Regions from separate parts of the Homo sapiens genome. Here region 2 is linked to region 1. The links come from fine-mapping of genetic effects on gene expression. Tissue or cell type: esophagus muscle. Region 1 holds a variant in brackets; the other region holds the start of a gene. All regions are shown on one strand. Distances are from middle to middle.

What was found. PIP is the estimated chance that this variant, and not a neighbour inherited with it, causes the effect.
Region 2: it holds the start of CCDC144A, and the variant in region 1 is fine-mapped to the expression of CCDC144A in esophagus muscle (GTEx, PIP above 0.99). The same link has a PIP of 0.9 or more in lung and testis.

The regions. Positions count from the first base shown.
Region 1 is chr17:16,777,712-16,785,815 of GRCh38, reverse strand. It overlaps CCDC144A (coiled-coil domain containing 144A), which reads right to left. Exons shown (of 17, transcript NM_001382000.1): 17 at 7,935-8,104. Among named protein-coding and RNA genes, the nearest start is that of FAM106C, 7.1 kb to the left of the region's middle. The variant C/T (reference allele first, on the strand shown) is at 4,878.
Region 2 is chr17:16,685,856-16,693,959 of GRCh38, reverse strand. CCDC144A (coiled-coil domain containing 144A) reads right to left here and starts at 3,719. Exons shown (of 17, transcript NM_001382000.1): 1 at 3,216-3,719; 2 at 911-981. The coding sequence starts at 3,559. It also overlaps the pseudogene RNU6-405P. RefSeq lists enhancers at 3,826-4,729, 6,517-7,017.

The DNA.
Region 1 (8,104 bases):
AAAAAACTAAAATGAGCCATGTGTGATTCAACTGGAATTAGAATCACCAGGAAGAACTCATGGTTTTCAGTATATTCTAATATAGAAATATGGATGAATATAAGCATGTATGTTTGTATATTTATCCATCTAGCTGTATTTTTCTGCTCTGTTCACTGAGGAAGCCTATGAGCAATGACAACTCCAATAGCCATACGTATCTACCACAATTACTGCCCAGATATTGGTTTCTAATTACTGTCCCCTAAAGAAAGTCAGGGCTTCTGGAAAAAAATGAAAATGGCTGATTCAAGGGCTAGGGCAGAGAAAATACGAAGTATGGTTGAAACAGCTTATGCCAGAAAGTAAGGAAGTATTCAAAGAACAATAAGGACAGTTCAAAAAGACATGAACTCAGCTTGAAATGGCTACCACTGGTCAAAGCGGAGGGAACCTGAACAGCAAAACAATAAATTTTCCCTTCTCCCCTATTTGTTGGTTGGTTTTGTTTTGTTTTACTTATCCACTTAGAAGGAATGAAAGATGAAGACAATCATGATTTGGCAACCACCATAATAATAACTGACCCAACAAAAATAATCAATGAAATGCTAAATCTAGTGGGTGAGATGTTTAGAGTAACCAGATATTTACAGAGCCTCAAACTATGTTCACGTAAGACATTGGTGAAAAACAAAGGGTAGATAGTCACTTTATCATGGACAGACCTGGTAGATTCTCAAACAAAGCCAACACTGGCCAGTAATGGAGCCAAGTAACAGCATATGCCTCCAGATATGCTGCATTGGGAAGAACTCAGCCTCACTTGTGTGACCTTCCTGCCTGAATGGTATAACCTGAACTGAATCATGAAGAAATATCCTATGAACCCAAACTGAGAGAAAATCCACAAAAAACTGACCCATACTCTTCAAACACATAAATGCCATGAAAATCAAGGAAAGACTCAGGAATCATGCTGGACTAAAAGAGACTAAAAAGACAGAATAATTTGACACAGATCGACCTCCTCCAAAGGCCAGCAACCTCAAACATCAAAGGTAGATAGGCCCACAGAGATGAGAAAGAATCAACGTAAAAATGCTGAAACCTCTCAACATCATGGATTATGAAAGTCAACATCATGGATTGTAAAATCACCCATCTTAAATTATTTGGCTATAAAAAATATTATTGAGACAACTGAAAAAAGTAAAATAAGGTTTATGGATGAGATATTAACAGTAAACCATTTTTAATTTCCTGATTTTGATAGTTATACTATAATTATGCAAGATAATGCATTGTTTTTAGGAGACACACATAAAATTATTTAGAAATAAAGAGGCATCATACCTGCAACTTATAAACCATTCAGAAAAAGTCTATATTATGCACCTACATTTATATTTACCTAGAAAGAGAAGAGGAAAAGGGGGAGAAAGGATAAAGCAAATATAGTAAAATGTTCACATTTGGGGAATAGTATCCAAGAATGTTTTGTAGGTTTCTTACTATTTTTCTATAAGTCTAAAATTGTCAAAATAAAACATTTCTAAAAAGAAAAAAATTGTTAAAAAAATTGTCAAATTATAACCTATTAAATGAAATAAACCACAAGTAAATATCAAATCAAGTAAATGAATAAATTGAGTTTGATGAAGAACAGAGATATCTACATAGTCTCAAATTACCTCCCCACAAAATATTAATATTAATTAATTACAAGGTGAAAAAGTAACATTACAGAGGAGAAAGCTAGCAGACACCACTGTTTGTGATCAATGCCAACATCACCAGTAAAAGGGCAAATCAAAATTGTAGGTCACTCATGTTCTATGGGGCTAACAGAGCTCTAATTTCTTCCCGGGATGGAGTGCCTGAGGGGTGGGGCAGGCTGCCACCTAGGCCTTTCAAGCTTCTCAGCCAATTCAGCCTGTGGGCCTTTGGACAGCCCAAACTGAATGGGAACTGAAGGGATCCCCAACACAGCACAGCTGGTCTACCAAAAAGTAGCCAGAATCATTCTTTAAGCAGGTCCCTTATCCCATTTCTCCTGACTGGAGGAGACCTCCCAACTGGGGTCTCCAGCCACCTCCTTACATGCACTTTCGAGCCAGCAATAAGTCAGTACGCTGCTGGGCTGGAGCTTCCAGAGGAAGTGGCAGGCAGCCATCTTTGCTGTTTCACAGACTTCACTGATGATACCTCCAGCTATGGGAAAAACCGAGGCAACTAGGGTATAGTGCGAACCCCCAGCAAACTGCAGCAGCCCTGCAGAAGAGTGGCCAGACTGTTAAAAGAAAAACAAGCAGGAAACAACAACAATAACAATTTAAAAAGCCACAAAAACCCCATCCTCAAGGTCAAAGTTTAAGATAGACCCACAGAGATGAGAAATAACCCCAAAATCCTGAGGACTCAAAAAGCCAGAATATCCCTGCAACACCTCTCCAGCAAGGGCTCAGAACTGGGTTGAGCCTGAGATGGCTGAAATGACAGAGTAGGCTTCAGAATGTGAATAACAGTGAACTTCAATGACCTAAAGGAGCATCTTGTAACCCAATGCAAAGAAACTAAGAATCATGACAAAACAATACAGGAGCGGACAGCCAAAATAGCCGGTCTAGAGAAAAACATAACTCACCTGTTAGAGCTGAAAAACACACTACAAGAACTTCACAATGAAATCACAATTATTAACAGCAGAATAGCCCAAGAAAAGAATCTCAGAGCTTGAAGACAATCTTTCTGAAATAAGACAGGCAGACAAGAATAGAGATAAAAGAATGAAAAGGAACGAACGATACCATCAAAAAATATGGGATTACATAAAGAGAACGAATCTATGATGGATTGGGGTACCTGAAAAAGACAAGGAGAATGGAACCAAGTTGGAAAACATACTTCAGCATAGGATTCAAGAGAACTAACTTCCCCAGGTTAGTTCTAGCAAGACAGGCCAACACTCAAATTCAAGAAATCCAGAGAACTCCAGTGAGATACTCCACGAGGAGATCATCCCTGAGACACATAATCATCAGATTCTCCAAACTCTAAATGAAAGAAAAAATGTTAAGGGCAGTCAGACAGAAAGGCCAGGTCACCTACAAAGGGAACCCCATCAGATGAACAGCCGACCTCTCAGTGGAAACCCTACAAGTCAGAAGATACTGGGAACCAATATTCAACATTCTTAAAGAAAAGAATTTCCAACCCAGAATTTCACATCTGGCCAAACCAAGCTTCATAAGCAAAGGATAAATAAGATGCTTTTCAGACAAGCAAATGCTGAGGGAACTTGTTACTACCAGACCTGTCTTGCAAGAGCTCCTGAAGGAAGCAGTAAATATGAAAAGGAAAAACCATTACCAGGCACCAGAAAAACACACTAAAGTACAAAGAACAGTGACACTGTGAAGCAACCACACAAACAAGTTAGCAAAATAACCAGCTAGCATCATGATGATGAGATCAAATCCACATATAATACTACTAACCTTAAATCTCAATGTGTTCTCCAATGAAAGACACAGAATGGCAAGCTAGATAAAGAACCAAGACCCATCAGTATGCTGTATTCAAGAGACCCATCTCACACACAAAGAAACACATACGCTAAAAATAAAGGGATGGAGGAAAATTTACCAAGCAAACAGAAAGCAGAAAAAAACAGAGCTTGCAATCCTAGTTTCTAACAAAACAGACTTTAAATTAACAAAGATCAAAAAAGACAAAGAAGAGCACTACCTGTTGGTAAAGGGTTCAATTCAACCAGAAGAGCTAACTATCCTAAATATATATGCACCCTATACAAGAGCACCCAGGTTCATAAAGCAAGTTATTGGAGACCTTCAAAGAGACTTAGACTCCCACACAATAATAGTGGGAGACTTTAACACCACAATGACAATATTAGACACATCATGGAGACAGAAAATTAACAAAGATATTCAGGACCTGAACTCAGCTGTGGATCAAGTAGACATGATAGATATCTACAGAACTCTCCAACAAAAAACAAGCGAATATACATTCTTCTCATAGCCACATGACACTTACCCTAAAACTAATCATAAATTAGGAAGAAAAACACTCCTCAGCAAATGAAAAATAACTGAAATCATAACAAAGAGTCTCTCAGACCACAGCACAATCAAATTAGAACTCAAGATTAAGAAATTCACTTAAAACCACACAACTATATGGAAATTGAACAATCTGCTCCTGAATGACTTTGGGGTAAATAATAAAATTATGGCAGAGATCAAGAAGTGTTTTAAAACTAATTAGAACAAAGAGACAACATAACAGAATCTCCAGGACTCAGCTAAAGCAGTGTTAAGAGGAAAATTTATAGCACTAAATGCCCACATCAAAAAGAGAGAAAGATCTCAAGTTAACAACCTAATATTACAACTAAAAGGACTAGAGAACCAAGAGGAAACAAACTCCCAAGCTAGCAGAAGACAAGAAATAACCAAGATCAGAGCTGAACTGAAATAGAGACACAAAAAAACCTTCAAAAAAATCAATGAATCCAGGAGGTTTTTTTTAAATTTACTTTTTATTTCAATAGGTTTTTAAGGAACAGGTGGTGTTTGGTTATATAAATAAGTTCTTTAGTGGTGATTTTTGAGATTTTGGTGCATCCCTCACCCGAGCAGTGTACACTGTACTCAATGTGTAGTCTTTTATTTCTCACTCCCTTCCCACCATTTCCCCTGAGTCCCCAAAGTCCACTGTATCATTCTTATGCCTTTACATTCTCATAGCTTAGTTCCCACATATGAGAACATATGATGTTTGGTTTTCCATTCTTGAGCTACTTCACTTAGAAGAATGGTCTCCAATTCCATCCAGGTTGCTGCAATTAGAAGAATGGTCTCCAATTCCAT[C/T]CAGTTTGCTCCTTTTTATGGCTGAGTAGTATTCCATGGGGTGTGTGTGCACATATCACATTTTCTTTATCCACTCATTGATTGATGGGCATTTGGGCTGGTTCCATATTTTCACAATTATGAATTTTGCTGCTTATAAACGTGTGTACAAGTATCTTTTTTGTATAATGACTTCTTTTCCTCTGGGTAGATACTGAGGAATGGGGTTGTTGGATCAAATGGTAGATCTACTTTTAGTTCTTTAAGCAATCTCCACACCGTTTTCCATAGTGGTTGTACTAGTTTACATTAGCATCAACACTATAAAAGTGCTCCCTTTCCACCACATCCATGCCGACATCTATTATTTTTTAATTTTTTTAATATTGCCATTCTTACAGGAATGAGGTGATATCGCATTGTGGTTTTGATTTGCATTTCCCTGATCATTAGTGATGTTGAGCATTTTTCCATATGCTTGTTGGCCATTTGTATATTTTCTTTTGAGAATTGTCTATTCGTGTCCTTAGCCCACTTTTTTATGGGATTGGTTTCTTTCTTACTGATTTGAGTTCTTTGTAGATTCTGAATATTAGTCCTTTGTTGGATGTGTAGGTTGTGAAGATTTTCTCCCACTCTGTGTGTTGTCTGTTAACTCTGCTAATTATTTCTTTTGCTGTGCAAAAGCTTTTTAGTTTAGTTAAGTCCCATCTATTTATCTTTTGTTTTTGTTGCATTTGTTTTGAGCTTCTTGGTCATGAAGTCTTTGCCTAAGCCAATGTCTAGAAGGGTTTTTCCAATGTTATCTTCTAGAATTTTTAAGGCTTCAGGTCTTAAGTTCTTGATCCATCTTGAGTTGATTTTTGTATAAGGTGAGAGATAAGGATCCAGTTTCATTCTCCTAAATGTGGCTAGCCAATTATCCCAGCACTATTTGTTGAATAGGGTGTCCTTTCCTCACTTTGTTGAAGATCAGCTGGCTGTAAGTATTTGGCTTTAATTCTGGGTTCTCTATTCTGTTCCATTGGTCTATGTGCCTATTTTTATACCAGTATCATGCTGTTTTAGTGACTATGGTGTTACAGAATAGTTTGGAGTTAGGTAATGTGATGTCACCAGATTTATTCTTTTTGGTTAGTCTTCCTTTGGCTATGTAGGCTCTTTTTTGGTTCCATATGAATTTTGGGATTATTTTTCATCATTTTGTAAAGAATGATGGTGGTATTTTGATGGGAATTGGATTAAATTTGTAGATTGCTTTTGGCAGTATGGTCATTTTCACAATATTGATTCTACCCATCCATGAGCATGGGATGTGCTGCCATTTGTTTGTGTCATCTGTGATTTCTTTCAGTAGTGTTTTGTAGTTTTCCACGCAGAGATCTTTCACCTCCTTGGTTAGGAACATTCCTAAGTATTTTATTATTATTATTATTATTTGTAGCTATTGTAAAAAGGGTTGAGTTATTGATTTGATTCTTGGCTTGGTCGCTGAAGGTGTATAGCACAGCTACGGATTTGTGCACACTTGTGTGTAACTCTGTATCCTGAAACTTTGCTGAATGCATTTACCAGTTCTAGAAGCTTTTTGGATGAGTCTTTAGGGTTTTCTAGGTATACAATCATATCATTGGGAAACAGCAATAGGCAGACTTCTTCTTTACCACTTTGGATGCCCTTGATTTCTTTCTCTTGTCTGATTGCTCTGGCTAGAACTTCCAGTACCATGTTGAATAGAAGTGGAGAAAGCGGGCAATCTTGTCTTCTTCCAGTTTTCAGGAGGAATGCTTTCAACTTTTCCCTGTTCAGTATAATGCTGGCTGTGGGTTTGTCATAGATGGCTTTTATTACCTTAATGTATGTCCCTTCTATGCTGATTTTGCTGAGGGTCTTAATAAAATAAGGATGCTGGATTTTCTCAAGTGGTTTTTCTGCATCTATTGAGATGATCATGTGACTTTTGTTTTTTAATTCTGTTTATGTAGTGTATCGCATTTATTGACTTGTAGATGTTAAACCATCCCTGCATCCCTGGTATGAAACCCACTTGATCATGATGGATTATCTTTTTGATATGTTGTTAGATTCAGCTAGCTAGTATTTTTTTTGAGGATTACTGCATCTCTGTTCATCAGGGATGTTGGTCTGTAGCTTTCTTTTCTCATTATGTCCTTCCTTGCTTTTGGTATTAGGGTGTCTATTAGTCTGTTTCAGTATTAGGGTGTGTATTAGTCCATTTTCACACTGCTGATAAAGACATATCTGAGACTGGGCAATTTACAAAAGAAAGAGGTTTATTTGACTTACAGTTCCACATATTTGGGGAGGCCTCAAAGTCATGGTAGAGTCAAGGAAGAGCAAGTCACATCCTACGTGGATGGCAGCAGGCAAAAAGAAAGAGCTTGTGTAGAGAAAGTCCTGTTTTTAAAACCATCAGATCTTGTGACATTCACTCACTGTCATGAGAACAGCATGGAAAAGACCCGCCCTCATGATTCAATCATCTCCTACTGGGTCCTTCTCACAACATGTGGGAATTATGGGAGCTAAAAGATGAGATTTGGGTGGGGACACAGAGCCAAACCATATCATGGTGATTTTGGTTTCATCAAATGATTTAGGGAAGATTTCTCTTTCTCTATCCTGTGAAATAGTGTTAATAGGATGAGTACCAATTCTTTGAATGTCTGATAGAATTCAGGTGTGAATTCATCTGGTCCTGGACTTTTTTGTTGTTGGCAATTTTTAAATTACCATTTTCAATCTTGCTGCTTCTGATTGGTCTGTTCAGAGTCTCTATATCTTCCTAATTTAATCCAGGAGGGTTGTATATTTCCAGGAATTTATCGATCTCCTGTAGGTTTTCTAGTTTATGGATGTGAAGATGTTCATAGTAGTCTTGAATAATCTTTTGTATTTCTGTGGTATCAGTGGTAATATCTCCCATTTCATTTCTAATAGAGCTTATTTGGATCTTCTCTCTTCTTTTCTTGATTAATCTTGCTAATGCTTATCAATTTTATTTATCTTTTCAAAGAACCAGCTTTTTCATTTATCTGTTGTATTTTTTTGTTTCAATTTCATTTAGTTTTGTTCTGATTTTGTTATTTCTTTTCTTCTGCTGGGTTTGGATTTGGACTGTTCTAGTTTCTCCAATTCTGTGAGGTGTGACCTTAGATTGTTTATTTGTGCTCTTTCAGACTTTTTGATATAGGCATTTAATGCTATGAATTTTCTTCTTAGCTCCA
Region 2 (8,104 bases), 92 kb after region 1:
CTTCCTTTATTGTAAGAATACAGCATATTAATACATATACCATACCAAACATATCTTAATTGACTGTTTATGTTATCAATAAGGCTGCTGGTCAACAGTTAGCTATTAGTAGTTACGTTCTTGGGGGAGTCAAAAGTTATACACAGATGTTTGACTGCAGAGGGAATCAAGCATCCCTAAATTCCACATTGTTAAGGGTCAATTGTGATTGATATTCATTTACTAAACATAAGTCATTTATTTTAAAAATTAAATAGAAGTTCCAATTTCATAACAAGTCTAATTCATTATAAGGTGACTATAAAGAAAACATACAACTTACTAACTCAAAAATATCTTTTTCTTGGCCGGGCGCGGTGGCTCACGCCTGTAATCCCAGCACTTTGGGAGGCCGAGGCGGATGGATCATGAGGTCAGGAGATCGAGACCATCCTGGCTAACACGGTGAAACCCCATCTCTACTAAAAATACAAAAAATTAGCCGGGCGGGGTGGCGGGCGCCTGTAGTCCCAGCTACTCCGCAGGCTGAGGCAAGAGAATGGCGTGAACCAGGGGGTGGAGCCTGCAGTGAGCCGAGATCGCACCACTGCACTCCAGCCTGGGCGACAGCGAGACTCCGTCTCAAAAAAAAAACAAAAAAAAACACTTTTTCTTATTTATACAAAAATATCACATAGGATTTTAGGGACCATAATTAATTTTTTTTCAGACCAGATTGTTTGAAAAAATAAATGACCTACAATTAACTTTTTAAATAATTGTGACATCTAACCTACCAAGAAATCTAACCTATCAAGAAAGAAATAAAGATTTTTTAAAACTGCTCTTTCATGATCAAAACTTCCTTACTCTTACTTCTTTTTTACCTATGGTAGGACCACCAAAAATAATTCACTATCAGAAGTCTTACCTGGATTGTTATTTTGAGGAAGACTTTCAGGTGTCTGTTTTTCCTTATATTCAGGAACTAGTTGCTGAATGCTATGGATAAAAATGTAATAAATGAAATTACTATTTTAAAACAAATGAAAAATACCAAATATATTAAATTTTTAGAGTATTTCAAACAATATCAGAGTTAATATCAGAACTTTAATTATCCCATATACTTCAATTTGTGAGTTCTACCAACTTCTCTTTAAGCTTCTGAAGAAGAAAAAAAGATGAAGTACTCATGAATTGAAGGGAGTATAGCTCAGTAAATTAACTCACATTAGCTTGGCATAATGGAAAGCGTCCTAGCTCTATTACCAGCAGCTATTTATTCTCTGACAAGTTGCTTCTCTTAGGCTCAATGTATTCTTCTAAAAAGCAAGGATTTTACTGCCTTATTTCACTAGGTTGTTAAAGATTTAACAAGAAAACGTTTTGTAAATGCTCAGAGAAACAGTGAAGCAATGAAATAATTTGTTCTTGAGCTTTATTGAGGAAATGGTTTTGGAATCACAAATAAAACCCAATGTGTATTTTTCCAGAGGTTCTAATATTCAAATGTTGCAGTTTTCCAAAACTGTTATTAAGTTCTAGTTTTATTAGTTCTATTCTTTGTGGCTTATAATTTGGGGCATCACAGCTAGTTCATAGTTTGTAACTAAATTTACTTATAAATATATTATTTCATCAAACTAGATAACAACACTGTCCACTATTACTGAGCTCATCAATCACGCCAAGGGGAGAAAGCTAATAGATGTCAAGACCTAGCTTGGACTACTGTTCCATACAGACTCAAACTCTGAATCGGCAGATCTTTGTTAGAAGGATGCTCAATCCCCATGTTCATCTCCAACTGACATGGAAAACAAAATGCTACTTTTCTTTTTCAGTTCCATGAAAGACATGCAAGTTGACATTCTCTCATTTCTGAGATACATACTGACAATATATTTGCACACAACATCCCACGTGTTACTCAGCTCCATTGATCACCTTACTGCATATTTTTGTAGTGAAAAATCACAATTTTAATATTAGGTGATACCCAGTTTGCTTTGACTCACACTGTCTTTGGAACTAGTCAGCAAATAGTCAAATGAACTTCTAGTGACTGCGCAAAATATGGACCACTTCAAAAATCTGTGCATCATCCTTATGCAGGCAGGGGCCATGCTAATTTCTCTCCATTTTGTTCCAATTTCAGTATATGTTTGCTGCTGAAGCAAGTTTTGTTTGTTTGTTTGTTTGTTTGTTTGTTTTAGACTGAGTCTCGCTCTGTCACCCAGGCTGGAGTGCAGTGGCGCGATCTCGGCTCACTGCAAGCTCCGCCTCCTGGGTTCATGCCATTCTCCAGCCTTAGCCTCCTGAGTAGCTGGGACTACAGGCGCCCACCACCACGCCCGGCTATTTTTTTTTTGTATTTTTTAGTAGTGACGGGGTTTCACCGTGTTAGCCAGGATGCTCTCAATCACCTGACCTCGTGATCCGCCCACCTTAGCCTCCCAAATTGCTGGGATTACAGGCATGAGCCACTGCACCCTGCCAAAGCTCTCATTTTATACATGGATATTCATGAGTCATGGATGAGACTTAGCTCTGTTAAATCCAACTAACATACTTGAGACTCAGAATTCTGGTGATGGCTTCCTGCCACAAATCTGGGAAAGGATAATATGGGACATTCCACGATCTAAGAAAAGGGTCCTCAGCATACAGATCTGGTAGCAATGAAAAAAGGAAACTCCTCTCTTTCTGCAACATTATTTGAACTGAACCCCGAGGGCCTAAAGGATAATTTATCATGAAGGTCTTAGCTAAGTCTAGGCTGAGACAAAAGCATAACAGGCGGGGTTTCACCATGTTGGTCAGCCTGGTCTCGAACTTCTGACCTCGTGATCTGCCCTCCTCGGCCTCCCAAAGTGCTGGGATTACAGGCATGAGCCACCGAGCTCGGCCAACATGAAGTTCTTAAGGATGGAAGGAACCTGAGCGACAGTAGAATATGTCTGCTGTATAATAGGTATTCAGCTTATGTTTGATGAATAAATTGAGAAAATGGATAAACACAGTTGGGAAGTGCAATATTTTTAAAGAAAACTCCTGTAAAGTAGACCAACACTTTTGCAATAGTAATAATCCTTTATATTTGATCCCGTCTCACTAAGAGGCCTGGGCCCCTGACCCCTCTGACGTTTCCCCATCCCGGGTGCCGTGGGGCCTGCGGGCACCAGAAAGCCAGTGTCCCCGACAGGACGGCGCATCCTTCGCCTGGCCATTACCTCTTCTTCCTATCCCTCTTGTCCACGCCAGTGTCTCCAGGAGCTAAGATGTGCTCCACCCCAGGGACGTCGCCCGACCGGGCAGCTCTGTGGAGCTCGCCAAGATCTTCCAGGCGGACGTCGTGCTGGGGCTGGTCTAAGGCGCCCTCACCGTGCTTGCTCTCGCTGCCGACGCTGTTTTTCCACCAGCTGTAGGGGAAGCCCGAGGACCACTGGTCCCCCGGGTAGCCCAAGTACCACTGGTCCCCCTGGCTCCCGACGCTAGGGGTCTTCCTCGTGGCGTAGACTGCCGGCTTCGGAGACCCCTCAGCCCCTCCCCGCTTTTCTCCACCCCAGGAGGCCATCAGTAGCGAGCTACTGCCTCGGCCACAACCTCCCAGCAGGATAGCCCGCGGTTTCCAATCTGCGAAAGGAGGACCGCCAAGCCAGAAATGCCAAGCCAAGCGATCACTGCCACGCCAAGCCAAGCGACCACCGCCAAGCCAACAGCCACCGCAAAGCCTCGTGGGTAAGGCCAAGCCAATCCGTTACAGACCAGTGCGCCTGCCCACCTGTGACATCACGGAACCTGTGACTTCACTGCATCTGCAGCTCCAGCCTCCCAGAAAAAGACTCCTTGGCCTGCAGGTGGCGCTGCAGCTCCAGCCTCCCAGAAAAAGACTCCTTGGCCTGCAGGTGGCGCTGCAGCTCCAGCCTCCCAGAAAAAGACTCCTTGGCCTGCAGGTGGCGCTGCAGCTCCAGCGCCAACCTGGGCTGGCTGGTCCTCCCTCGGAGGTTTCGGGGTGGCGGTGCCCAGCCTGCCTGTCATGAGTGCCGCTTCACAGCGCCGCCGGCGCACCTGCTCCTAGGCTTGCTCGGTTCAGGGGTACGGGTCAGTTCCGCCCCCGGCTTGGCCACTGCAGCAAAGTTGCCCTAGGGTCCGCGCTGCCAGGACGCAAGCGGAGTCAGATGGCTGGGTCAGAGCGGCCTGTCAGCCCGGCTGGAAGGGCCTGCCCGACGCCGCTGCCCGCCCAGCTCCTACTCGGCCTGCGCCTGGAGCCAGGGACCAGCTCTGGGCATTCTGCTGCCTTAGGATGGGGCCAAGCAGCCGCTCCCCGCCGTGTGCCGCAGCCGCTGCGCGCATCTGCCCAGGGTCCGTGCAGCTGGCGACCCGGGCGGGTCGGGGAACGCCTGGTGCCACCAGGATTGCTCGCCTCTAGTCCGTCCTGACCCTTCAGCCCGCGAGCACCAGTGAGATTGAAGAAAAGTGACGGCCAGGCGCGGTGGCTCACACCTGTAATCCCAGCACTTTGGGAGGTTGAGGCGGGCAGATCACTTGAGGTCAGGAGTTTGAGGCCAGCCTGGCCAACATGGTGAAACCCTCTCTACTAAAAATACAAAAATTAGTTGGGCGTGGTGGCGCGTGCCTGTAGTCCCAGCTACTCCAGAGGCTGAGACAGGAGAATCTCTTGAACCCGGGAGGTGAACGTTGCAGTGAGCTGATATCGTGCCACCAAACTCCAGCCTGGGCGACAGAGCAAGACTCCGTCTCAAAAAAAGAAAGAAAAGAAGGAAGGAGAGAACGAAGCAAAGAGAAGGAAAGAAGGAAGGAAGAAAGGAAGAAAGAAAGGAAGGAAGGGTGACAAAGGAGAATCTAGAGAGCACTCAAATACTAATTCTTGAGGACAATTAAGACAGATAGCATTATGAAAAACAGATTTTGTCACTGAAGCCTCAGGGCTTCAGCCTAGATCCTGCGCTGCTCACCCACAGAAAGCCAATCACTGAGATGAGTATTGCAAAGGAAGAAGGCTTTAATCAGATGCTGCAGCCGAGGAGATGGGAGCTCAGTCTCAAATCCCTCTCTCTGACCAACTAAAATTAGGGATTTTTAGTATAGCAAAGAAGAAATGTAACTATGTATAAGAAAACATGAACTAGAAAGGCGTAAGGAAGCAATCATTTACAAAATATCTGTGGCCGGGCGCAGTGGCTCCCACCTGTAATCCCAACACTTTGGGAGGCAGAGGCAGGTAGATCATGAGGTCAAGAGATCAAGACCATCCTGGCTAACATGGTGACCCCTTGTTCTCTACTAAAAATACAAAAATTAGTTGGGCGTGCTGGCACGTGCCTGTAGTCCCAGCTACTCGGGAGGCTGAGACAAAAGAATCGCTTGAACCCAGGAGGTGGAGGTTGCAGTGAGTCAAGATCATGCCACTGTACTCCAGCCTGGCGACAGGGCTAGACTCCATCTCAAAAAAAAAAAAAAAAAAAAAAACAGAAAAAGAAAAAAAGTATCACCCTGCCTCCTCAATCTTGGCATAATTCCCCCTATGAGTGGTTTCTGGGGTCTCAGTTGGCATTTAGTCACACGTATGACATTGCACATATCGTGTGCACATCTGCACAGCTCAGCAGTGTCCTGGGTAGGCCTTGAAGGGTGATCTTCACGTAAGCCTGTGGCCTGAGCAAGAAAGCTGCACACGGGCAGCGGAGGAACCAGCAGGAGCCCAGTCCTCTGTGGAAAATTCCAGCACCACCCGCAAGAGCAGCTGCAGTGGAGACTGTGACCTGACAAGGATATATGCATGAAGATGCTGGTCTGAAAACAGACTCAGTTTAAGGGTGGCACTTTGAAAAAATATTGATACATGTCAGTGAGAAAAAAATAATTAGAAACAAAATATATTTATTAGAAATATTACAGTCATTTATCATACACTTTCCTATGAATAGTTAAATACATCTAATTAGCATGTCATATCCAAAAGTGCTGGGTACAATCTAGTGTGCTCTTTATAGACACAAGGCCACAGATGTATCAACTACACTCAACTAATGTAGTTAAAGTTAGTGTGCTAAAAAAAAAATTAGTGTGCTACTCAGGATGCTACAGATTTAGCAAAACTCTAACCTGGATCAGAGGAATGAAATGCCCCGTGAATTGAGGCAACTGTAGATATTCAAAATGCTTCTAAAAAGGCTGTGAGGTTATGTCCTTTACTGCATGTCATTGGTAGGGCATCTCAAAATGGCACTCGAGCTTTGGAAGAATGAGAACTATTGCTGGATTTGACAGTGGGTCTGCATCTATGGGCCCGAGTCCTCCATCTCCACAAGCCGCCCCTCAGTGGGGAAGAGGAGGGGGAGACTAAGGGAGTCTCCGTAATGTTCGTGGGCAGCAGGGAAGAGAACATGGCAGAGATTCCTCACCGCTGGAGGGCTTGTCCCCTGGGTATGTGTGTTTTTGTTTAATACCCACTGGCATCTACTTGGGTTGGTCTCTACAAAAGCTGTAAAAAAACAAATGAATGAAAAAGGAAAACAAAAGACTAATATTGTTTTTGAAATGAAAGGGGCTAGGACAAGAGAAATTCCTGAGAATGTTATCCCTGCGGGGGGCGGCGGGGGAGGGGGATGGGCTACCATCAGACAAGGAAAATTCAATCCCTGTTCAGTGCAGAGAACAGCGACTTCTCACCTTGAAAAACTCCCCCACTCTACTGAGGCTTGCATTTTGCAGCTGTCTTTCATGTAAAAATTATACATAAAAAAAGGATCTTCAGAACAACCAAAGAATTTTAAATGACTACATACTGACTGAGGGAAGATGGAAAGAAACCTGGCTGTTGTGGCCTCTGAAAGCCTCAGGACAGAAACCGGGAATGGCACACTCTGCTGAGTATAGAAAATGTAAGATGCTGACCTTGTTTTCCCAGTTTACCAACTTTCCACCTTCACCTGGTGCTCTGAGTTCTGTTAAAAACAGACCTAAAAACCCTACCCCTTGGCCTAGCTGGGGTGAGGACTGCCTCCCCCAGGTCCTGCACCTCCACACGCCAGCGGATGGCCTGGGGGAGCCTACTAGCTGCTGTGCTAGAAGGCCTATTCCTGCATCCCTGAGGCCATCAGTCACAGTTCCAGGACCCCAGCAGAACCTTCCCTTCCCTGAAACACCGCCTGTATTTCTTTTCTTTGTGTGTGTGTGTGTGTGTGTGTGTGTGTGTGTGTGTGTTTGTGTGTGTGACAGAGGCAGAGGTTGCAGTGAGCCAAGATTATACCACTCCAGCCTGGGCGACGGAGTGAGATGCTCTCTCAAAAAAAAAACAATTTTTTTTTGTGGAGTCAGAGGTCTTGCCATGTTGCCCAGGCTGGTCCCGAACTCCTGGGCTCAAGCAATCCTCCCATCTCAGCCTCCCAAAGTGCTGGGATTACAGGCATAAGCCACCATACCTGACCACCATGTGTACTTCTAGGGACAGGATATAGCATTCCTCTTCTATATGCACACCCACTGGCAACAAAAAAAATGGTAGTCGGGGAAACTCCTTGAGTTATAAAAATAAATTGCACATGGCCTTTCATGTTTCTTTCCTTCTTTTTAACCTAAAGAGAGCAGGATACAGACAAAAATGGAGAGTTTGGCCACAGTCACTGGCAACTTGGGCTCCCATTGGAGAGGGGCTGGTATGGTGCCAGCATGGAGGGAGGGAAATTGCAACACCATTGCCCAGAGCTGGTTCTAGATGGTTTGCACATAATTACTAAAAACAGAGCCAATCACAGGCCAGGTGTGGTGGCTCACCCCTGAGTGAGCTGAAATCGCGCCACTGGCACTCCAGCCTGAGCAACAGAGCAAAACTCTGTCTCAAAAAAAAAAAAAAAAAAAAACAAAAAAAACAGCCGGGCTCGGTGGCTCATGCCCATAATCCCAGCACTTTGGGAGGCTGAGGCAGGTGGATTATCTGAGGTCAGGAGTTCGAGACCAGCAGGAGCAACATGATGAAACCCTCTCTCTACTAAAAATACAAAAAAAAAAAAAAAATAGCCAGATGTGGTGGTGGGCGCCTGTAATTCCAGCTACTTGGGAGGCTGAGGCAGCAGAATCACTTAAACAAAGGAGGCGG